Linked DNA regions of Homo sapiens: all the other regions are linked to region 2. The links come from fine-mapping of genetic effects on gene expression. A gene starts in region 2. Each other region holds a variant in brackets. All regions are shown on one strand. Distances are from middle to middle.

Evidence for each region. PIP is the estimated chance that this variant, and not a neighbour inherited with it, causes the effect.
Region 1: its variant is fine-mapped to the expression of ORMDL1 in whole blood (TOPMed, PIP 0.95).
Region 3: its variant is fine-mapped to the expression of ORMDL1 in monocytes (Quach 2016, PIP 0.95). The same link has a PIP of 0.9 or more in monocytes after Pam3CSK4.
Region 4: its variant is fine-mapped to the expression of ORMDL1 in whole blood (TOPMed, PIP above 0.99).

The regions. Positions count from the first base shown.
Region 1 is chr2:189,749,529-189,755,634 of GRCh38, forward strand. OSGEPL1 (O-sialoglycoprotein endopeptidase like 1) reads right to left here. Exons shown (of 9, transcript NM_022353.3): 3 at 5,645-6,032; 4 at 4,613-4,817; 5 at 4,388-4,536; 6 at 3,321-3,451; 7 at 3,125-3,196; 8 at 1,022-1,128. The coding sequence ends at 1,050. It also overlaps a transcript of ANKAR not described here. Among named protein-coding and RNA genes, the nearest start is that of OSGEPL1-AS1, 10 kb to the right of the region's middle. The variant A/G (reference allele first, on the strand shown) is at 3,389.
Region 2 is chr2:189,781,368-189,787,473 of GRCh38, forward strand. ORMDL1 (ORMDL sphingolipid biosynthesis regulator 1) reads right to left here and starts at 2,972. Exons shown (of 5, transcript NM_016467.5): 1 at 2,902-2,972; 2 at 1,647-1,756; 3 at 1,055-1,235. The coding sequence starts at 1,228. PMS1 (PMS1 homolog 1, mismatch repair system component) reads left to right here and starts at 3,083. Exons shown (of 13, transcript NM_000534.5): 1 at 3,083-3,226. RefSeq lists enhancers at 2,259-3,145, 2,431-2,510, 2,601-2,660, 2,671-2,900, 3,451-3,500 and a silencer at 3,041-3,090.
Region 3 is chr2:189,737,874-189,743,979 of GRCh38, forward strand. ANKAR (ankyrin and armadillo repeat containing) reads left to right here. Exons shown (of 23, transcript NM_001378068.1): 19 at 692-809; 20 at 3,469-3,578; 21 at 5,402-5,601. Among named protein-coding and RNA genes, the nearest start is that of OSGEPL1-AS1, 22 kb to the right of the region's middle. The variant T/C (reference allele first, on the strand shown) is at 3,615.
Region 4 is chr2:189,663,217-189,669,322 of GRCh38, forward strand. ASNSD1 (asparagine synthetase domain containing 1) reads left to right here. Exons shown (of 6, transcript NM_019048.4): 2 at 685-738; 3 at 2,160-2,235; 4 at 2,825-4,380; 5 at 4,548-4,729. The coding sequence starts at 2,917. ASDURF (ASNSD1 upstream open reading frame) reads left to right here. Exons shown (of 4, transcript NM_001353493.2): 2 at 685-738; 3 at 2,160-2,235; 4 at 2,825-3,185. The coding sequence ends at 2,895. Among named protein-coding and RNA genes, the nearest start is that of ASNSD1, 4.8 kb to the left of the region's middle. The variant T/C (reference allele first, on the strand shown) is at 3,673.

The sequences.
Region 1 (6,106 bases), 32 kb before region 2:
AGTACAAAGTTTGGATTAAAAAAAAATCCAAAAAAACTCCCTCATTTATTTCCATCTGATTATATACAATTTCTCAAATAACTGATGTGAAAGTATGTGGACAACTAAAGCGTACAATACATACTTGAGGGATTACTTATATGTTAAAATTGTAAAACCTCAAATTATATAGATTTTAAAAAATGCATAGACATCCTATTTACTCCAGAGATGATACCTAATAACGAACTCTTAAAATTAATAACATATTATGTTAGAGAAAGTCAGCTTTTGTCTTGATTTGGAAATGTCTGCTTTGACATGACTGATCTAAAATTGCTCTCTTGAGCACATCTGTAATCCCAGCATTTTGGGAGGCTGAGGCAGGCAGATTGCCTGAGCTCAGGAGTTCAAGACCACCCTGGGCAACATGGTGAAACCCCATCTCTACTAAAAAAACAAAAAATTAGCCAGACGTGGTGGTGGGCTCCTGTAGTCCCAGCTACTCAGGAGGCTGAAGCAGGAGAATCGCTTGAACCCAGAAGGTAGAGGTTGCATGCAGTAAGCTGAGATCACGCCACTGCAATCCAGCCTGGGTGACAGAGGGAGATTATCTCCAAAAAATAATAATGATAAAAAAAAATTAAACTGCTCTCTCATTATAAAGTCAGGTTCTTGTTTCAGTAGGAGTTAAAAAATAGCTTCTCCTATCCTGATTTGAGGAAGTGGGGGAAAGTCCTAGGCCTGTATGATACAGGGCCAGAATTCAGCAAAATTACTGTGCTTCTTTCAAAGCTTCCTTTCTACCTGCCAGCATCAATACATTCCTTTCTCAAAAGATGTTTTATTTTGGTTTTTAATAATTAAAAGAAAAAAACTATCTTCCCTTGTAAGACTTTTAACACATTATAGTATCTCAGAAGAGCAGGTAAAACATCAAATAGAAAAAAAAAAATAAAATCTTGATGAATAATTAATATTATATATCTTCTACAATTTGATACACAAAACAATAAAAACTTAATTTTAACCTTAATACTACCTTTAGGGACTTTTTTGAACAGCAGAAATCATATCTCCATTTTTAATTGTGGTACTTTTATGGAAGCTTCTCCAACTTCTTTTGATATGTCTACTCCAAGAGGACATCTACATCATAAGCAGACAAATCGTATTATTTATTTGCTTCATGATCCATCACTAGTTCTGCAGACTATTTGCTTAGAATTCTGATGGTATAAATATCAAATATTTAATTCATCATATGTGGTGATGATTCTTAAATACTTACAAATATACTGGGACCTCAAGTCAGGATAATGAAAGCTAGTCTCATTAATAAGAAATCTAAATTTTGAGATATTTTTGAAAGAAACAGTTTTGCTGTTCTCAAATACTGTAAATAAGTTAAAAACATAAAATGAAATATAAAAATAATGAAAAATATCTTATAATTCTCTACAAAGCTAAAAAGGTAAAAACATTTTTGCCACACAGCTAAAGTCAAACCTGTATCCATTCACATTTTAGAAATGTCCTAGGTTTCTATAGGTTCTTCTCTGAAGTTTCAAAAGCTGCCTTGCCCCTTTTCTACCATCCTTTGCCATTACTAGCCAAAGAGGTCTTAGTTCCTGCTGTCTTTTTCTGTTCCTCCTCAGTAACTAATTTTTGCTTCAGATTTCTGCTTTTCTACCATGGTGTCCAAGATAAGGCTTTGCTTTGACTGAATCCCAACCTGGAAAAAGCCATTATCTCCAGCCTCAACACTGCCACAAGGGGGCATAACTGAATCAGAGGATATACTCTATCTGAGACAAGGTATCAAAGGGATGCCTTCCGGTACTACTAACTCAATTCAGTTCATTCATCATCAGCATACATGTAATTCATATATAGCACAACTGTCAAGTTACGGAATATAATGCTGACAAGTTGTGTTTTTTTTTTTTTTTTTTGAGATGGAGTCTCACTCTGTCACCCGGGCTGGAGTGCAGTGGCGTGATCTCGGCTTACTGTAACCTCCACCTCGAGGATTCAGGCAATTCTCCTGCCTCAGCCTCCCGAGTAGCTGCGATTACAGGTGCCTGCCACTACGCCTGGCTAATTTTTGTATTTTCAGTAGAGACGGGGTTTCACCATGTTGGCCAGGCTGGTCTCGAACTCCTAACCTCAGATGATCTGCCCACCTCAGCCTCCCAAAGTGCTGGGATTACAGGCATGAGCCACCATGCCTGGCCAATGCTGACAAGTTTTAAAACATCAGATGAAACAGTGTTCAAAATATAATTATTTATGAAAATAATTGTCTTTTACTATTCCAGAATTAAAACAGAATTTGATAGTAATTTGAAAAACCAGCCAGGTGTGGTGGCTCACACCTGTCATCCCAGCATTTTGGGAGGCCGAGGTGGGTGGATCACTTGAGGCCTGGAGTTCGAGACCAGCCTGGCCAATGTGGCAAAACCCAAAAACTAAAAATACAAAAAATGAGCTGGGCACAGCTGTGTGAACCTGTAATTCCAGCTACTCAGGAGGCTGAGGCATGACAATCACTTGAATATGGGAAGCAGAGGTTGCAGTGAGCCGAGAATGCGCCACTGCACTCTAGCCTGGGTGACACTAAGACTCTAAAAAAAAAAAGAAAAAAAGTAAAGAAAAAACTGTGCTATTCACTGGAACTTTGATTTGGGAGAGGAAATAAGGCTTGCAGGAAACAGCTATCTTTCGGCCAATTCTCAACTGCCTGTGTAAGAGCATAATCACAACCCACTCTCACACCTGAATGCTTTCTGCATGTTTTCCTTAAATTTCCCAGCATACTTGCTGGTTCTGAGATGTTCTTGACATTGCAAAAGTCCAGGTCATGGACATAGTTTACATTCTAGTTCCAAAGGAGGGAATTCATCACCCTTACTCATGACCTGTTTCTAACTCACCTAAACTTGCCAAGATTTTTATAATTTGATACTGTAGCAAAAATATTTCTCATATGGTATCAACCTTAACTAGGTTCATGAAAGAAATTTATGTAACTTTCCTTCAAGTACCACCAGAATGTCAATGAAAACCTCATATATAAAGGCAAAATCCAGGCTTTGTCTTAAGTAATGTAACTTGCATAAAGATCATGAATGATACCACATACTTTGGTTCATAGCGGATGCCTTCTATGTCATGTAAAATGCCCAAGCCAGCACGTAGTCTTTCAATACCATTCCTAAATAAGAAGCATTAAAATAAAATCAATAGCTCCAAGATCTGAAGGAAGAAGGCTTAGTATGATAAAATGGCAATTAATATTTACATAGTTATGAGTGAAGCACGTATATCCTGTGGCTTACCATGCAATCATAATGCCATTATCAGTGCATAGTCTGGGAGGAGGACACAACAAAGTGCACTGTGTTGC[A/G]TTTGTTAAAATTTCCAGAGCTCTGCGGATATAGAAGTTACTTGCGACACCACCAGATGCAACCTGAAGGAATTGAGAAAACCAAAATAACTATCATATATGGATATGAACCAAGCTGCTAATTAAACCTGGAGAAAAATATCAGCATTAAACAATAATAAACTATCCCATTTTGAGATGGGTAATGGGCAGATGACATATCTATGTAATAAAAATTTGGAAAGAAAAAAATTACTAATAATTCTAATAGCATACAAACATTACTAGCATTTTTGTATATTTTCTTCCAACCTTTCATCTAAATATTTATTTAATATAATTTCAATCATAGTACACTATTTTAGACCCTGAAATTTTTATTATTTTGTGCATTTTACTACATAACTCTGAAAAAATTATTCTTTGATATCCATGTAAAATTCCATCTATGAATTACTACCATTTAAACATTTTCCCACTTTAGTTTATAATTTTTAAATGAATAAAGTTTAAGATACAGTTAAACAGGATGTTTGTCAAGGCTTTTAAGCACAATTAAAGGGATTTTGGCTGGTACAATATAGTGGATTATCAGAACTTTATCAACATTAGTGTCACGAAAGTTGGTATACCACCTCCCACTGCTAAATTTGACTGGCTTATTAAAAAAACAAACAAACAAAGGGATTTCATCAAAGGATGAAGGAAATCCACCTATTTTTCTAAAAATAGTGATAGCAGTTACTGCATTTACTTTCTTTATTGTAAGCCCTCTTTTAAATCCAACAAGAAGATGCAAAATTAGACTTATGTGCCATAGAAGCTATACAGCTGTCCCATAAAGCTACCAAACTAGTACAAGAAATGGCTGTTAGTCTTTCCTATCCTGCATAATTTCATACTGTCAGGGCTAGCATAAGGCATAAAGATCTGTTCATCCTAAACACAAGGTCAAGGTCTTGGGAAAAAAGTAACATATTGCAAAGTGTAACTATTACTATAAAATGAGATAAAACTTACCAGTACTGCATTATTTTGAGGTAACAAGTCTCTCTGCTTACAAAACAGAATAGCCCGATGTGTTCTTTTCACAAGATGACATGCCATTGTGTGCTGTACTGTGGCAGCAATGTCTGCTGCTGAAGACAGGATTTGCCCCTTCTCAATACCTGCAGAAATGAGCAGCTATTTTTAGGCACAATCCAGGAATATTTATCTGTTCAACTTTACTAATTAGAAATATACCTTCCTCTTTTTCCTTTTTCATTATTATTTTATCAGTAACGTGTTGAAGTCCAGTAAAAGAAAAATCACAATTTTTAGCATGATGCAAGGGAGGTTTGATGTCAAAATGAAATCTATTTCCTTGTTTGGCCAAATGTTCTATGGCTTTCCCACCACTCATGGTGGAGCACTCTGGATGTTTTATTAAAGAAAGTCTTCTTGCCACCTATCAAAGAAACATATTTTTTAGAGTCATAAAATTAAATACTGTGAAACGAAAAGATGCAAAGGAAATAAATTGAAAATTACTAACAAAACAAAAAACCCCTGAATGAATAAAACATGCTATACTTTGGCAAATATAGACTATAGCTGATATTCAGGTAAGCAGACAACCCTGTTCCTTATGATGACCCGAACAATAAGAGGCCAATCACTGCCCCTGTCTATGTTTGCTCTTCTATTGGTTGGAAAATGGGCTTGAAGTTGACAATAACTGCTTAATGATGAACGTCAATAATAAGAACTTGTCCTATACTTCCTATTATTTCACTGTGGGAAGCAGTGTTTTGTTTGTTTGTTTGTTTGTTTTCCTATATATGGCAGTAGCCTCTGTAGTATTCTAAAACAAAGGGGGGTGGGGGGGGACCCTGTCTGTGGTGTAAGTAATTGTGTGATTTAATTCTGTGCATTGCATCTTTAATGTCCTTATGTTAATCTATATATATTCTCTTATTTTACCTTTTTTGCAGTATGTTAGTTTACGAAGCACGTTCTTTCACATACATTATTTGGCAAAATACATAACTGTATCTGCAAACTATTTCAGCCTTTATGTACAGATATGAACCTCTTACCATTTTATTAAGAAAGGCTAAGAATTATAAAATTGTGTACTACTCTTTCTATTTTTTCTCACCATATGTGAATTTTTTTCAGTTTACTAAGATAAAATTCAGAAATATTTAGGTGAATGGTGGTAGCACATCTATTGCTACTTAGTTGAAATGGACAACATAACAAAAAAGAATGGAGAAATTAATTCTTAATTACCTTGTCAAGCATGTCACCTGGTGCTATGTCCAAAGACTTTCCAAGAAGCAGAAAATCTGAAACTCCTTGAACTAATGCCAACAGACAGTGACCTCCAGAAATCAAAAGAACTAAAAAAGGAAATTCTACTTTATTGGTCAACCTAATAGTAAGTGCATGAGCCTCCATATGATGAATGGGAATGAATGGCTTTTTTAACTGTCCTACCAGCTGTAAGCTAAATGATAAGCCCACTCCCAGGCTTAAAGCAAGTCCTGGTTTTATGGTAGTTGCAATTGCTGAGAGGTCACTTGGAGAGACTCCACTGGCAGAAAGAGCTTCTTGTACTATTCGTTGAATATTTTCTCTGTGAAGCTGTTGAGCTGCTGGAGGAACAATCCCACCTGTTCTGAAAGAAAGAAAGACAGCATTTTGTAGTTTTAAGATTGTAAAAATGAAGAAAAATGATATTACAGCTAAAAG
Region 2 (6,106 bases):
ACGTTACTTTAATGGGTTATTAAAGACAAGAAAAGTCGCTGTCAAGATTTTTTGTTTTTGTAAAAGGCAATTTCCAGGGCTGCATAATATGGTCAGTACAGTCAATCAAAACTTTGATACTCTGTAGAGCTAACACAAGAGAGTAACAAGCAGCAGCTAAGGCACCATAAGATCCTGAATCACATAAGATGATTAAGTTCAAAACTTAAATACTGAAACAGTGAAGTATACTTACACTATTTAGATAGATAAGTTAACAAGGATTGAAACTAAAATGATCTATTTTCTAGATTCTATACAATGAGAAAAAAAAAAGTCTTACTTAGAAAAAGGACCAATGTTGAAATAAAGCGTGAAAGAAAAAAGAAAATTCTATCCCAGATTAGAATTCTTCAAAATTAAGTCTTATATACTAAAAACTACTAAACTATACACTTTAAATGGGTGGATTTTATTGCATGTGAATTATATCTCAAAAAAGCTGTTAAAAAAACTAAGTTGTATACAACACAAAACCTTAAGCTTCTTTAAAAACTATGTTTAAACACACATGTCATAAAGTTTACCATCTTAGACACTTTTTTTTTTTTTTTGAGACGAAATCTCACTCTGTCACCTAGGCTGGAGTACAGTGGAATGATCTCGGCTCATTGCAACCTCTGCCTCCCAGGTTCAAGCGATTCTCCTGCCTCAGCCTCCCGAGTAGCTGGGACTACAGGCATGCGCCACCATGCCCGGCTAATTTTTGTATTTTTAGTAGAGATGAGGTTTCACCATGTTGGCCAGGCTGGTCTTGAACTCCTGACCTTGTGATCTGCCTGCCTTGGCCTCCCAAAGTGCTGGGACTTTAAATGTACAGTTGAGTGGTATTAAAAACATTCATATTGTTGTGCAATCATCACCATTACCATCCACATCCAGAACTCTCTTCATCTTGCAAAACCAAAAACTCTGTACCCATTAAGCAATAACTTTCCATTCCTTCCTCCCCTTAATTTCCGGCAACCACTAAACTTAAAACTTTTAAGTGTTTAGTATAATGTGAAATTCTTACCAGATTATGTATAATATTTGTTAAAGTCCAAGCAACAGGAACACTGAAGAAGGGAATGCTGAGTAAGACAATATGAAGCAAGCCAACTCCCAATGCATATGTCAGCCACATACCCCGGCTGTTCATGACACGGGTATTTGGATTCACTTCACTGTGGGCAACTCCAACGTTCATGTTTGCTCTGTAGGAAGTAATGAAATGAATCAACACTGATACAACTGGCAACCTAACACCCCCAATTCTGACATGACAAGGTACCTGTGTTGCGAGGATTATTTTTTCCTAGTTACTTTGAAGTAGCACACAAACACCATCCAAAATATGCTACTTGTAGATGCTGATGACAGCAGTAAAGAATCTTCAGCATTTGACTTTAGGGTAAGACAAGACTTGTTATTATGGTTCTATTTGAAAAAATAGTTACAATGCCTTTCCAAAAGTTTGTTTTCTAGCATGTTGTTTTACTGAATAGGAAAATTCAAACTGAAAGAGAAAACCTACATTTTCTTATATCATGAGAGCAAAGTGAAAAGCCAAAAGCTAAATTTACCAACATAATAAATTTATATTAAAAAGAAAAAGCAGAACTCACCGAGCCAGTGTGTCAAGTAGTCAGACTCTTATATTTGACTTAATGTATCCATAAAGAATGGTCAGAGTTCAGATCACTTCTTTCTGAATACTCAATGTGGAAGGTACATGCTGTTGACATAATGTGGTGTAAAATTTACATGGTCAAGGGATAATGTTTGTTTCTCAATTTTGTGATTAAACTAGGTGAAAATAAGGAGTCTTCTGAATATTTCTCTAGTCAAATCAAAAACTTCAGTTTTCTTTCTTCTTTTTAAAAAAGGTTTTCCCTTCTCCTTTCCATTGAAGATGGACTCCAAAGGAAGAATTGATAATAGTTCTCAGTTCTTTTAATGATGGTGTTTACTTGAGACTAAGAATTGCTTAAAATAAAACTGTCCTGAAGAACACCTATCATCCGACGGAGGGGGAAAACGAGGCTAGATTATATTTGGAACAGCTGTGATTTTAAAATACACAAACGCTTGTATTACGGAGTTAGCATACAGAGAGGAATTTCTCATAACCCCTTCCAGCAAATGTTTCCGGAGTATAATGCTCCTTCCGCTCTAGAGACCCATAGAACAGGCATCAAGGGTTAAGGGGACGAAAAGTTAGTTACACTAAGACCGCTAAAGCCTCCAATTTATATGTGTAAATCTTTCGTCTAAACACCCATGATTTATCATACATTAAACTATTATGTCATACTTAGAACATGCCAACACTCAAGATAGTTTTCCCACGTTCCACAGGATGGAGGCCTGAAATTTACATCTCAGCTGGAAGGCAAAGCTGGTGCGGTACTCATCCTATTCCAACCAGAAAACCTTTTCCCAGCAGGTTTGCCGCGCTGCCCACGACTGGCAAACAATGACCTTACAGACCGTGAAGAGGCTGTTGGCTCTGCCCTCGCCGGTGCCTCCGAAGACGGCGACCCGCAGCGGCCCCTCAGGGGAGTCCCCCCTGCTAGACCGACAGCCCGAGCGCTCTGGGCCAGAGAAAACTCAGCAAAAGCCGCCGCTGCTACCACCTCAGCGCCTCCCCCAACCCGCCCCTTCCTTCTCGCGGCCGCACGTCACGTCAGGACCCTGGCAAGACAACGAGGATTTGCGTAGGGGGCGAGCCTCTGAGGCCACTTGGCTCTTACGGCCACGCAGGGCGCCGCAGATGCAGCCGGAGCCCGCTTTTCCCTCTCAGGACGACCCCTAGGCCGCCAGCAGTTCCCTACCGACGAAGGCGACTGTACAGCGTCCACCGCGTTCGTGCCCACTTACCCGCCGCCCCACTCCGGGCCGCCGGCTCGCAGCAGGACCAGCCCGGCTGCTACGGCCGCGGATACACGCCCTCAGGCCCGGCGCTGCGCAGCTTGCGGAAGCTTTCCCGGACAGACTCGCTGCCAGCGGATTGGCTGCGAGCAGCGCCAATCTCACGTTGCCCCCGGGCGAGGCGGGACTCAGTGCCGCGCTCTCTGCACCCGCTCTGCCGCGCGCGTGCGTGCTGGGTGCGGGTGCGGGTGCGGGGTTGGGCCTGCGCATCGGGTGAGACGCTGGCTGCTTGCGGCTAGTGGATGGTAATTGCCTGCCTCGCGCTAGCAGGAAGGTAGTGTGGTGTGACTAACGGGTATTTATTATATCCTCGATGGCTCGAGGGCCCCGTCCCCTCTACTCGTCCTGGTCCGGGCGCGAACGCTATAGGGCAGCTAAGGGCGCTCCCCGCGGGGCGGGAAGCGAAGCCGGGCTTGCGGGCGCGCACACGTGGAACGCGTTTTCTGAGCAGGTCTGGGCTCCGGGGTGTTCTGGCTTGGTCTTTGTTGCGTCCCATTCCCCAGACCCTTCTGGGTGGAGGACTTAAAATTTGTTTTCCAGGCAGCAGATTTAACCCATGGCAACTGTAACTCATCTTGTGTGAGTGGCGGTTTATAGTATTGTATCCTGTGGCATCATACAAGGGGTGCAAGTTAAACTCTTTAAAGTTAATCACGATTTTTGCTCTTGGCCTTCTGGGTTTATCCGTACGCCGAAGACAGGCACCTGTATTACATGCTAAGGAAATGTGAATACCAAAAATTGATCCTGAGGAAAGTCTTGATTAGGTTTTTTTGGAATCGCCTTTGAAATGTAATTTCCCTCACCTTGGCAGTGCAGAAAGTTTGTGATTTTTATTGCCGAAATAGCTTTCAACATTTTGAAATTGACTTAAGAGAATGTTGGCTGTGTATGTCTGTATCTTGCATTTCTGTTGGCTTTGTGAACCTAATTGTTTTGGATTTAGTCTGATCTTTAAATAAATGATTTCTTTGTGTTCTCTCTAATGGAAGTCTGTGAGTTCTCTGATCTTTACTTCTTTTTTAGGCACACCTGTTGTCCTTAACTGACTTTCCGGGTCATCAGCACTTCTTCAGAAGTGTTCCTTTTCCCTCCCAGCAAATATGGAAGACTGACTATCCTGATATTCCCAGACATTCTTTGCTGTGATTTGTAAGCCCGATATAAACCCTTCCATTTGGTACACATATGGTATAGAGTGCTATATTCCAGGGGCTATGCTAGCGATGTGTGATTGATATAAAACCCCTGTCCTCAAAGAACTCTGAGTCAGGAGCAACAGACAGAAACACATATTAATAGAGTAACTTGTGATGAGGTTAATTAGAAATGAGGTAAAGGGGGACTGCAGGGGAAGGAATACCTAATCTGTTGGCAGGTGAAGGAAAGGAGGCTGCAGCAGGGAAGAAAGGCTTGAAGAGTTGATACTGAACTAAATCTGGAAGGATGATTAGAAGTCAGCTGAGAGAGAACCATGTGAGCTGAGGAAGGAGTGAGTGTCACCATGTTAAGAGAGACAAGTTGGCTGGGCACGGTGGCTCACACCTGTAATCCCAGCACTTTGGGAGGCCAAGGCGGGCGGATCACCTGAGGTCAGGAGTTCGAGACCAGCCTGGCCAACATGGTGAAACCCTGTCTCTACTAAAAATACGAAAATTAGCCGGGCGTGGTAGTGCGCTCCTGTAATCCCAGCTACTTGCAGGGCTGGGACAGGAGAATTGCTTGAACCTGGGAGGCAGAGGTTGCAGTGAGCCAAAATCGCTGCACTCTGGCCTGGGCAACAAAGTGAGACCCTGTCACAAAAAATAAAAAATAAAAAAAGACGAGCTGTGCAGTATGATCGCCCTAGAGCACATTTGGGCAACGATGGGATGACTGGGAGAGGAGGCAAAAATCCAGTTGTTAAGAAGTTTGTACTTAACCTGGTTGGCAATTGGAAACCTTTATAAAAATTTTAAGTGGGGCAGCAACATGATGAAATTTAAATACAGAAAGAACCCTATAGGTGGTTGAGATTCGAGTCAAAATATCAATTAGGTGGTTATTGCAGTAGTTCAGGAGAGAAAGGCCGAATGGAGGCAGTACAAAGAGGAGAGGACTAGTTTGGGAAACATTTAGATAGTAGGAGAGAGATGACTGGGTGGCAGGATGTAGAGAGCGAGTAGAATTTCTAGGATGACTTCAAGGTTTCTAATTTTGCTTTATGTGCTTGGATGGAAGGTGTTTGAGAGCATGGCCTTTGGAGTCAAACATGCCAAGGTGTGCATCTGCCACTTAATAGTTTTGTGATCTTGAGCAAGTTACCATGCCTTTAAATCCTATTTGGTGATAAAGGATGATAGAATACGTAGAGTTGTTGTGAGGATTAAATAGGATAATATATATAAAATTCTCATGTTGGCTATTACTTTTATTATCAAACAAGAAATATAGGAAGAAAGTTGATTAGAGGCCAGTCGTGGTGGCTCACGCCTGTAATCCCAGCACTTTGGGAGGCCGAGGCGGGCGGATCACCTGAGGTCAGGAGTTTGAGACCAGCCTGGCCAACATGGTGAAACCTTGGCTCTACTAAAAATACAAAAAATTAGCCAGGTGTGGTGGCGGGCACCTGTAATCCCAGCTACTCGGGAGGCTGAGGCAGGAGAATCGCTTGAACCCGGGAGGTGGAGGCTGCAGTGAGCGGAGATTGTGCCATTGCATTTCAGCCTGGGCAACAAGAGCGAAACCTGAAACTCTGTCTCAAAAAAAAGAAAGAGAAAGATTCTCTGATCAGTTTGGGACATGTTATGTTTAGGTTGCCTTCAGGTCATCTAAATGATGATATTTAGAAGGTAGATGGAAGTAAGGCCCTAAAGTCCAGAAAAAAAGTGTGAGATACAGGTGAGCTGGAGGATGGTGTGGAAGCCAATTGAAATTATGTATATAAAGGGAAGGAGGATACTTTTTCTAATGTTTGCGTTAGCATAAGAAAGATGCTGATAAATTATATTTAGTGGTCCTTCATTAATATTCATGAAGTGAAGGGCTTGCCATGGGTGAAGCATTTGATTGTTCTGCCTGGCATCCAGAGATACATAATACATAATTTCCTACATTCAAAAGTTGTACAGCAGGAAAAAAAAAGTTTTACAGTTCAGGACAAAGATGTAGTAGG
Region 3 (6,106 bases), 43 kb before region 2:
AAATATGTCATTTTGTGAAAACTTGAAAATTACAACAATTTGGAGGCCCAGAAAAACGTTTACTTATTTGTAAAAACTTAGTACTTTGCACATAAGCCCCTTCTACCTCATAAAAACTCCATTATCTATGAGGATTTCTTCATTAATACAGAATTTTACAAGTTATAAGACACTTGCTTATGCCTTTATACCTCATCTGATGTTTATAACAAGCCTGTAAGGTTGACAATCAGGTAGTATTATTTTCATCACCCCCATATTAAAAGTAAATAGGTAGAAAAACATGTTAGCATCCAAGACAGGTTTTCTAACTGCAAATCTTTAGTTGATCACACTGATCCTTCAACCTAGTAACAACTGTATGTATCTGGGAAGTCTTATTCTCTCTCTTCATTTTCTATCCTGTGCCCTTTAAGAGAAGTAATTTCTATGAACCCATATTGAAAGGGTGCAAAAGTTGCAAACATTGTAGGAAGAATAATAGTACCCCCTATGATCACTGCTATGACCAGACAGGGACAAATACTCTAACTCTCCCCACCACCACATGCTGCTTCTATTGAATCCTCTAAACACTCCCTTTAAGAAGTATCAAAAGAATTAAAAAAAAAACATAAAAAATGACAAACGTGTAATTAGAGAAGCTGAGTAGAAAATGTTCAAAGACTCTCTGCTTCTTTTCTGTTTTCAGATTGTTGTACTGGCTAAAGTCATTAGAGATATGGACCATATTACTTTGTCTGCAAGAGGTGTTACTATTTTAGTTGATAGTCTGTATTCAGTTCAGACTTCTACTATTGTCTTGACAGGTAAGAAATGACTAGAAGTTAATTTTAGCCACATAAAACTATTTTCAAAAACAGTTTATTGTAATCTGAATAATAATAAAATAATACGCCTGATACACTGCCACAAGTTTAAAGAACGAACTTATGTTTATATCTACATGGAACTCCACAGCAAGTCTACACGAAACAATGGGTGTCTACTCTGTACCCCAAACAGAAGCTGAGTAACTCTGAATACAGACTTTTTGCTTTCCTAATTACTTTTTCAAACCCTTAACTTTTTTTTCCAAGATATAAATGAGAATTCACCTATGACCTACAAACAGCAAAATAAAAAAACTGATTTATAATAGTGGTGGCAGATTTACACAGATGTACCTCTGTCTGGTTTCCTTTTGTCCAGTTGTGCACATTTTGCTAACACTGAAAAGTTCTTTACATCGCTGTGCAACAAAGCAAAGCAAGATGGTCCCATAGCGTTCTCAACACATTTATTGCTATTGTATAACTGTGTCTACTGCAGACCTAACCCAACAGCTCACACATAATAGGTGATCAGTAATATTTAATTGACTTGTTATGCCACTCTTAAAGTAACATAAGGCAGGGTCAGAATGAGTAATATGCAGTGACTACTACCAATATAAACAAATAAGTATTTGTTTTTTAATTAAAATGTATCACTAAAGGAAACTTTACTTGATGCCATAGAATTACATGTTTATGAAGTATATGTGCATGGCAAGGAAGGAAAAATGAAGCAATGAAAACTTTCTGATGGAAACTAGCTAGAAAAAAAGTTTAAAGAAGTTATTAAATATGTTTTAATCTAAATAACATTATTAATTCAATGTTATAGTAATTCTGTGACTCTGAAAAACAACTGTAGTGGGTTTAGACTCCACAGTTTTTTTTTTTTTTGAGATGGAGTCTCACTCTATTGCCAGGCTGGAGTGCAGTGGTGCGATCTTAGCTCACTGTAACCTCCGCCTCCCAGGTTCAAGCGATTCTCCTGCCTCAGCCTCCCGAGTAGCTGGGACTACAAGCATGCACCACCAAGGCCAGCTAGTTTTTGTATTTTTAGTAGAGATGGGGTTTCACCATGTTGGCCAGGATGGTCTCGATCTCTTGACCTCATGATCCGCCCGCCTCGGCCTCTCAAAGTGCTGGGATTACAGGTATGAGCCACCACACCTGGCCTCCACAAACTCTTATAGGAAAGAAATGCCATATTACATTGGCTTTCAAATATTAAATTAATTCCTCCAGGATGAGGAGAAATGAATCTCAGAAATTACTGGACTTTCTCTGCACTCCACAACCAGTCATATGCATGTCCAGGGTATCTCAGGCAAAGCTTGATATTCAGGCCTCAGGTATAGTGTAAAATAACTGATGTGCTTGGTGTCAAGTTGACATGGTTTCCAGAAGATGCTCCAAAGGCACAGAAGTTTTTAGGAAACTGATTTCTGTTACCAAGAATTCAGTTTTCCTATTTATACCACTTAGCTATTCTCTACTCGGAGTTCCTCCTTCTACTCCTTTGAGAACTATAAACTTTAGTTCTCTTTCTTAGCTGCTCCCTTGGTCTGTTTCCATTTCTAACTTCCCATCTTTAAAGGGTCTTTTTAACTTTAAATAGAGCTTACCTTTAGACAATTTTTGCTTTAGATGATACAACCAATTTTCCCCATTCGGAGGCAATAAACACAAGGAATTTCTTGGCTTATAATAGAGGCCAGACAAAAATATAAGGAGAACAAAAACTCACGTCATATCTCAATAAAGTATCCACATACTCCACACAGAAATATGAAAATACATTTTTATCTTCAAACAAATATAAATGAAATAATATTCAGTTGCTAGCTGCACATTTAATTATTGGGACACTTTATTATTTTAAATCTGAAAACATTTACTTTTATGTAAAAACTTCAGTGATTTTTAAACCTCAATAAGCAATACATTGATTGATTTTAAAGTATTAATAAGGCTTAACTCAAAGCCATTTCAACCGCAAAAAGGACATATTAATTTTTTTTTTTTGAGACGGAGTTTCGCTCTTGTTGCCCAGGCTGTAGTGCAATGGCACGATCTCTGCTCACTGCAACCTCTGCCTCCCAGGTACAAGCGATTCTCCTGCCTCAGCCTCCCGAGTAGCTGGGATTACAGGCATGTACCACCACGCCCGGCTAATTTTTGTATTTTTAGTAGAGATGGGGTTTCTCCATGTTGGTCAGGCTGGTCACGAACTCCCGAAGTCAGGTGATCTGCCCACCTCGGTCTCCCAAAGGGCTGGAATTACAGGTGTGGGCCACCACGCCCGGCCTAAATTTTCTTATGATAATTAAATCATTATGTTCATAGTTATTTTTAAAACCCTAAAAACTTCAAAACAAAATATATTCTGAAGATATGGGAGAAAGAAAACCTCTAATTTTCAAATTTTTCACCCTTACATAAACCTATTTAATTTACACTATTTGTGACAGAAAACCAAACTGTAATTTTGGGGAGTTTATTCTATATTTACATATGCATGCTTTTTCTCAGTGCTGCTTCATTGACAGAGATGTCTTGTGACACAAACTTTTTTCAGTGCTATGTGCAATTAATGAAAGTATTATAAGTTTATATCAATTAAATAACACAAGCATTTTTCTTGTTTAATTTATAGGGAATTTAATAGCAAGCCTGGCTCATTCTAGAGCTGGTATCCCAGAAGCATTTACCACATTAGGAACAATCCAACGGCTCTGCTATCATTTGTACTCGGGAATAGAAGAGGTAAAAACAAGCAAAAACTAATTCTAAAATTAAATA[T/C]GCTAAAAATATAATTTACCTCTCCCTCTGTGGACTAATTTTTCCACTGATTGACTGTGTTATAGATATAATATAATTCTTATTACTAACTCAAAATTACATGACTGTGTTATATATATAATATAGTTCTTGTTACTAACTCAAAATTACATGACTTTTCTAATACTAATTAGTCATACATATCTGCCATCCACAATTTTAATTCCTATAAAAATATACATTTGTTTTAACCCTAAGACTTAAAATTAGGATTTTAATCACAAAAGCAGTATAAAACGACTACAATTAAAGATTTAAAAAGAACTACCTGTTCAAATTAGTTTCTGATTTAAAAAACAAAAACAAAACCCTACAAAATAAGTCATCTTAATCCTGGAATTAAGAGTCAATCTATAAGTACGTTGATGACAAAGAAACTTATAATTGTTTACTAAGTATCTAATGAAAACCGGTGACTCTGATCTAAGTTATTTCTATGATTTGAAATGAATGAAAATGGAATTCATAGGATAGCTTTCCTTATGTGTCAAGCAGGGTTAGATGTAAGGGTGTGTGAAAGAGGCCGTGCTGGTCACAGCAGTGGCTTGCCTCTGAGTGTTCCCCTACTCTCTTCCACTAAGGTCTAAAGCAGTGTTACTCCACCTTTAGGGTATATCAGAATCACCTGGAGGGCCTGTTATATTGCTTGGCCCCATTCCTAGAGTTTCTGAGCCAATACATTTGAGGTGGGCCCTAGAATTTGCATTTCGAACAAGTTCCCAGCAGCTGAACTACAGGTCCAGGGTTCAAGGTTTAGAAGACATATGAGCATACAGAGCAACCGGATGCCAACATAAAGACCAATATGTTCATTCTATGAAACTTTTTATGCTACTATCATATTCCCTACAACTGGCCAGGAACATACTTTAATTAATCATATGACCAATCTATGGGTCATAGACAGAGGGTATTTTCTTCAAAGAACTATTTTTTCTAGAGTCCTGTGGCCTGACACTTGTGCTTCTTTCTGTTTTTGCCAGTGGAAAAGTGAGTTGCTCTTGTAACGTCTGAATGTTAAAAAAAAATTTTTTTAAAGTAATAAATAAATAAATAAGTTGCTTTCTCTAAGATTTCTGTTACCAAGAGTTCAGCTTTCCTATGTGTACCACTTAGCTATTCTCCAAAGTGTCTGTTCCTACTCCTTTGAGAATGATAAACAAAATAATTAAATAAGAGTTTCTAGGGATGGAACCCAGGCATAATTGTCAAAGTTATATGGGTGATGCTAATGCATTGTCAGGGTTGCATCCACTACCTTAGTTCAAACTCAAGTTCTTTCTTTGGTGGCACATTAGAATTACCTGACACACACACACACACACATTAGAATTACCTGACACACACACACACACACACACACACACTAGAATTACCTGACACACACACACACACACACACACACACACACACACACACACACACACACACACACACACACACACACACACACACCCCTGAAAGGATTCTGATTTAGTTGGTGGGCTTTTTTTTTTTTAAACACTCCAGGTGGTTCTAAAATGCAGTTAAGACTGAGAACAACCACTAGAAATCAATGGCAGTTGACAGCTCTCTGTAAAAATATGGCAGTTAAGCTTCCGTCTATACACTGCCATTTGTTTGCATACATATTTGCTTACACTTGCTCCCTCCCTTACAGAGACTTTCCTATGAAATAGCTAATTAGAACATTAAGATATTTTAAGAACAAAGCCCACTGGTTAAGAAAGAATTGTTTCTTCATTTAGGTTCGTGCAGCTTGTTCCTCTGCTCTTGGCTACTTAACATACAATGCAAATGCTTTCCGCATCCTATTAAAAGAATGCAGGAATAAACCTAATCAGTTCATTCGTATAAAAAATAATATCAGCAGAGATGCAAGTATTAACCCAGCATTTTTAAAGGAATTTCAAATGCAACAAACACTGGTGGGACTTCCTTCCTTAAGGTATGGTCCTATGTTAGAAGTTGCAGTAGTGAAATCATCGATAGAGGAGACTTTAATGAGGTTTAGTAAGATCCAACAAGAGGAACTATTCTTGATATGAACATATCTCCTGTATAGCAGAGGATAAACTTTATTCTAAATGACCACTGCCACAACCTGTTTTAATTCCAACTCAGCACCAGAGTTGTGGGTGCAGACAAGAACACATCTAGATCTTAGAGATCCTCTCTGGCCAGGATTATTCACATTTTAGAAAGTTTTGGGGAGACTGGTTACCACAACATCTGATTCAAGAAGTCACTTTTTAGCAGACTAGGGATACATTTGAGAGTTCTGAGACAAGACCACCACCTGACCTTAGCATCAAATGGGTTTTCCGGACCAGATCCAAAGCTAGGCCAAATTCCCAGGGTGGAAACAGGGCTAAATTAGACTTAGTGGTTAGTTACAGTGAAGTTTGCCAGGTATTCAGAGGATTTTGACTCAATGTTGTGGTTTCATCACA
Region 4 (6,106 bases), 120 kb before region 2:
TTGGTGTATATCATATATATATATTTTTTAAATTATTTATTTATTTATTTTTTTGAGACGGAGTTTCACTCTTGTTGCCCAGGCTAGAGTGCAGTGGTGCAATCTTGGCTCACTGCAGCCTCCGCCTCCCGGGTTCAAGCAGTTCTCCTGCCTCAGCCTCCCGAATAGCTGGGATTACAGGCATGTGCCACTACGCTTGGCTAATTTTGTATTTTTAGTAGAGATGGGGTGTCTGCATGTTGGTCAGGCTGGTCTCGAACTCCCGACTTCAGGTGATCCGCCCGCCTTGGCCTCCCGAAGTGCTGGGATTACAGGCATGAGCCACCGCACCCGGCCTGGTGTATATCATATATTTTTAACAAAAGGTATAAACCTTGTTTAGTAACTGTAGTCCTTGGCATGATTGCTGGTTATGAACACGAAAATCCCTGTCTGGTCTTAATGGGTTACCTAACATTTTGCAAGTCTAATCACTGTTTTTTCTCCTCCAGCTTTTCCTGAACTGTACCCCCACACAGAGACTCCTGTTGAAAATGATCTGTATATTCACAAACTGCCCGTTTGGAAAACCAGTACATCATAGCCCCTTATCCCATCTCTAATTTTAAAACAACCCCTTAAGGGATTTTCATTGAGCATACTTTGAAAACATCTGACTTAAGGAGTTTTTCTTTATTTCAATAGATTAAAGAACAAAAAATTGTGGTGGATGAACTTTCTAACCTTAAGAAGAATAGGGTGAGTTATTATAGGAATTCTGAATAATATGTGGGAGGTTTATTTATGTTAACTATATATTAAAGTTATAAGAAGTATATATAAGATTTAATCATACTTTAATAAAATGTATAGTATTTCAGCATCTTTTAAAATTGCAAGTGTCTAGATTCTTTTTTTAAATGGATAGATCTCATAGCTGAAGATGTCTTTTTTCTATCATATGCCATTCACATTGCCTTTGCAACAAATGATACTAGTTGTATTTTGGTATCTTGGAGCTATAATCACTAATGATGTTTTATACCTGAATTTGATGTTTTCTTTTGATATAAACGAACTTTATATTGAGATGAGAAGAAACTTTTCTTTTAAATGAATGTGGATAATTATTGAACAAAAAAGGATACATTGCTTCCCCTCCCTCCAAAAAATTTTTACATAGATTTTCCTAAATGTGTAACATGGTTATTTAATGCCATTTCCATTAATATGTTACAAACAAGTAAGCTACTGCTTTGTGTATGGTTATAGTGTCAAATTGCATTTTAACATTCAGGAAGAAATGAGTTTGAGCTCTTAAAAGCTTTGTAAAGATTATGTAATAACTGGCTGGTTAGATATTTCTGATATTGTCACTTATGGAATATTAGAAGTTGAGGCACATACAAAAATTAGCCAGGCGTGTGCCTGTAATCCCAGCTACTCAGGAGGCCGAGGCACAAGAATCGCTTGAACCTGGGAGGCAGAGGTTGCAGTGAGCTGAGCACACCACTGCACTCCAGCCTAGGCTACAGAGCAGGACTCCTTCTCAAAAAAAAAAAAAAGAAGTTGAGGCAGAATTAATACAGACTTTCTCTAGAGGGCAAATTGGCAAAAAGTCTCAACAATTCAAAACTATAACACTTTGACCCAGCAGTTCCATTTATAGTAGTTGATACTTAGGAGAGAATCATGGTAGTGCACAAAGATTTAGTTACAAAGATAATCATCACAACCTTGATTTACAATAGCAAAGAGATGGTAACACCTTAAATGTCTAGTATTTGAAGCTGAGCAAATAAACTGTAATATATTATATCTATATAGCAGTAGGTATAATTTGGTCACCATAGCTTGCTTTGGCATTTTGGTGTTCTTGTAAAAGAACACTTACTGATAAGAAAAAGTATTCTCAATATATTGCTCATTGATAAAAGCATAAATCTGCAGGTACAGTAAGAACCTTTTTTGTTAAAATGGAGAGAAAATAGTTTCATTTCAGTAGTAGCAATTTCTGGTAGTTGGGCAGTGGGTGACTTTTATTTGTCTTTTTGCTTGTCTGTATTTGCTAAAGTATTGTACTGAATAGATTTTCAAGAATTAGTGATAATAGGGTTTAAGGATTTTAATATCTACTTTTTAGATCAAAATTTGATATTAGCCTAAATTATGTTTTCCAGAAAGTATATAGGCAACAACAGAACAGCAATATATTCTTTCTTGCAGACCGAACAGAAATGCTGTCTGAGAGCAAGAGTAAGTTTTTTCTTTTTTGGGGTTTTTGGGGGGTGCCTAAATTATACTCATCTGAGTGTTAAAATATATATCTAAAGATTAATGCAGCAGTTTGATTTTCTTCAAATTAGGCTTCCGAAGATGAGTCAACAGTTATATATATATGTGTATATATATATATATATATATATATATATATATATATATATATATATATTATAAATGTTTTAGAAAGCAATAGTTATTAACATGTGCTTTAGAATTTTAAACAGGTCTAAGTATGACAAACCATTACCACTTTCTACCTTTGTGACTTTGGGTGAAATACTTTAAGCCTCCAAGGTATTGTGGGATCTAAATAAGATGCTATGTTAAAAGTGCTTAGCCAAGTGCTTGGGCCAAAATCAGCACTCGGCAAAACAGAAGCTATTTTTCTAAAAGATAAACATTCTTTATTAGTAGCCTGTTGTTAATTATCATTGGTACTGGCACAGTGTGTGTGTTTATATGGTTTGATTTTGGTAAACAGCTTGTGTTGCCCTCTGAATTGCTAGGTAAAAGTCCAAGAATTTTTATGTTATTTAATATTTATTCTCCTTCCCTGCAACAGATATATTGGATGAACTGAAAAAAGAATACCAAGAAATAGAAAACTTAGACAAGACCAAAATCAAGAAATAGTCAACCTGATTTCACATAACAATGTGTGGCATTTGTTGTTCTGTAAACTTTTCTGCTGAGCATTTCAGTCAAGATTTAAAAGAGGACTTACTATATAATCTTAAACAGCGGGGACCCAATAGTAGTAAACAATTGTTAAAGTCTGATGTTAACTACCAGTGTTTATTTTCTGCTCACGTCCTACACTTGAGGGGTGTTTTGACTACCCAGCCTGTGGAAGATGAAAGAGGCAATGTGTTTCTATGGAATGGAGAAATTTTTAGTGGAATAAAGGTTGAAGCTGAAGAGAATGACACTCAAATTTTGTTTAATTATCTTTCCTCCTGTAAGAATGAATCTGAGATTTTGTCACTCTTCTCAGAAGTACAAGGTCCCTGGTCATTTATATATTATCAAGCATCTAGTCATTATTTATGGTTTGGTAGGGATTTTTTTGGTCGCCGTAGCTTGCTTTGGCATTTTAGTAATTTGGGCAAGAGTTTCTGCCTCTCTTCAGTTGGCACCCAAACATCTGGATTGGCAAATCAGTGGCAAGAAGTTCCAGCATCTGGACTTTTCAGAATTGATCTTAAGTCTACTGTCATTTCCGGATGCATTATTTTACAACTGTATCCTTGGAAATATATTTCTAGGGAGAATATTATTGAAGAAAATGTTAATAGCCTGAGTCAAATTTCAGCAGACTTACCAGCATTTGTATCAGTGGTAGCAAATGAAGCCAAACTGTATCTTGAAAAACCTGTTGTTCCTTTAAATATGATGTTGCCACAAGCTGCA[T/C]TGGAGACTCATTGCAGTAATATTTCCAATGTGCCACCTACAAGAGAGATACTTCAAGTCTTTCTTACTGATGTACACATGAAGGAAGTAATTCAGCAGTTCATTGATGTCCTGAGTGTAGCAGTCAAGAAACGTGTCTTGTGTTTACCTAGGGATGAAAACCTGACAGCAAATGAAGTTTTGAAAACGTGTGATAGGAAAGCAAATGTTGCAATCCTGTTTTCTGGGGGCATTGATTCCATGGTTATTGCAACCCTTGCTGACCGTCATATTCCTTTAGATGAACCAATTGATCTTCTTAATGTAGCTTTCATAGCTGAAGAAAAGACCATGCCAACTACCTTTAACAGAGAAGGGAATAAACAGAAAAATAAATGTGAAATACCTTCAGAAGAATTCTCTAAAGATGTTGCTGCTGCTGCTGCTGACAGTCCTAATAAACATGTCAGTGTACCAGATCGAATCACAGGAAGGGCGGGACTAAAGGAACTACAAGCTGTTAGCCCTTCCCGAATTTGGAATTTTGTTGAAATTAATGTTTCTATGGAAGAACTGCAGAAATTAAGAAGAACTCGAATATGTCACTTAATTCGGCCATTGGATACAGTTTTGGATGATAGCATTGGCTGTGCAGTCTGGTTTGCTTCTAGAGGAATTGGTTGGTTAGTGGCCCAGGAAGGAGTGAAATCCTATCAGAGCAATGCAAAGGTATGACACAGTGTTTCTTCTCCTGAGAATTCCTGAGACCTATTTTTGACCCTTAAAGCTTTTAGCATTTTGATTGTAAGAATATAGCATATTTTAGGTGCATTTATCTTATTTTCTTTACTGTGTAGTTGATAACATTTTTATACGGATTTCTTTAAACCTCATAGGTAGTTCTCACTGGAATTGGTGCAGATGAGCAACTTGCAGGTTATTCTCGTCATCGTGTCCGCTTTCAGTCGCATGGGCTGGAAGGATTGAATAAGGAAATAATGATGGAACTGGGTCGAATTTCTTCTAGAAATCTTGGTCGTGATGACAGAGTTATTGGTGATCATGGAAAAGAAGCAAGGTAATTCTAATCATTTGAGTGTTCTTACGGTATTTTTATAAAAACAGCAGAGTGTAAATGGAGACTTTAAAGTTTGTTTTCTCTTTGGAGACTGTTCACATGAATAAGAGCAGCAATAATAGCTTGGCTTTGTATTATAAACAAAGTCAGAAACAGAGCTGGGAAGAGCCAGGAGAGCATTTATTTTCTAGAACTCATTCTCTAAGAAATGTCTTTTCAGTAATTTTCAAAGGTAACATAATGACAGGATTGTTTTTAAGACTATAGTGAAAAATACTGTCAAAGTAGGCCAGGCATGGTGGCTCACACCTGTCTTCCTAGCACTTTGGGAGGCCAAGGCGGGTGGATCACCTGAGGACAGGAGTTCAAGACCAGCCTGGTAAACATGATGAAACCCCACTTCTACTAAAAATACAAAAAAATTAGCTGATCATGGTGCTGCATGCCTGTAGTTCCAGCTACTCGGGAGGCTGAGAATGGCTGAACCCAGGAGGTGGAGGTTGCAGTGAGCCCAGATCGCGCCACCGCACTCCAGCCTGGGAGACAGTGCGAGACTCTGTTTCCACAAAAAAACAGAGTAAAACTGAGATAGTGAAATACTAAGAGAAGGTATTTAGAGGGTTTTGTTCAGCTTTTAATGTTTGCTTTCCTCCCAGTAAGGGCATAAGCCCCACCTGCAAGCCTTCTCCAGTGTTATAGAAACTGGCTTTGTCTCTATAGACATTTCTGTATGTACAGATCCATGCTGATTTGAAGGTAGTCCTTACACTGGATATTCCTCTGCCACGTTTTTTGAACACAATTTAGTTACATATTGCAGATTACCTAAAACCTTCAAAGAAACCAAGGCACTTTCATGTATGTATTCTTGCTTTTCAGGTTTATTTTTACCTATATCATATTTCTGAAGGTAGTGAACAAGTACAGTATTTGAATAAAACTTTCTAAAACATTAAGTAAGGATAAAGGAAGATGTGACATTTAGTTATAAAGAGCAAAAATTCATTCAAGTAGGCTAATTGATTAAGTGGTAGTTTATTACAAGGGTGCAAGCATCCAAGAATAGGAAGTCCAAGTAAGCTTCATGAGAATTAAACATACTACACTTTCTCTCCCTCTCTCTCTCTCTCTCTTTGACTTCATTGTTTCTTGTCTCTACTTCAGTCTTTTCCTCTTTCCACTGACTTGTAGTTGCCTTTACACAGTTGTCTTTCTTAAGTTTCTGGTCCTAGCCCATGTAAAAGTTTAGCTACTATGTCATTATTCTGTCATAATTTTCAAGATTTCACTATAAACTGATAACTAATGCCATAATAAAGTCCGTAAACTGTTAAACTGTTTTCTCTTTGAAGGACATGAGAGAGGTAGAAATTCAGT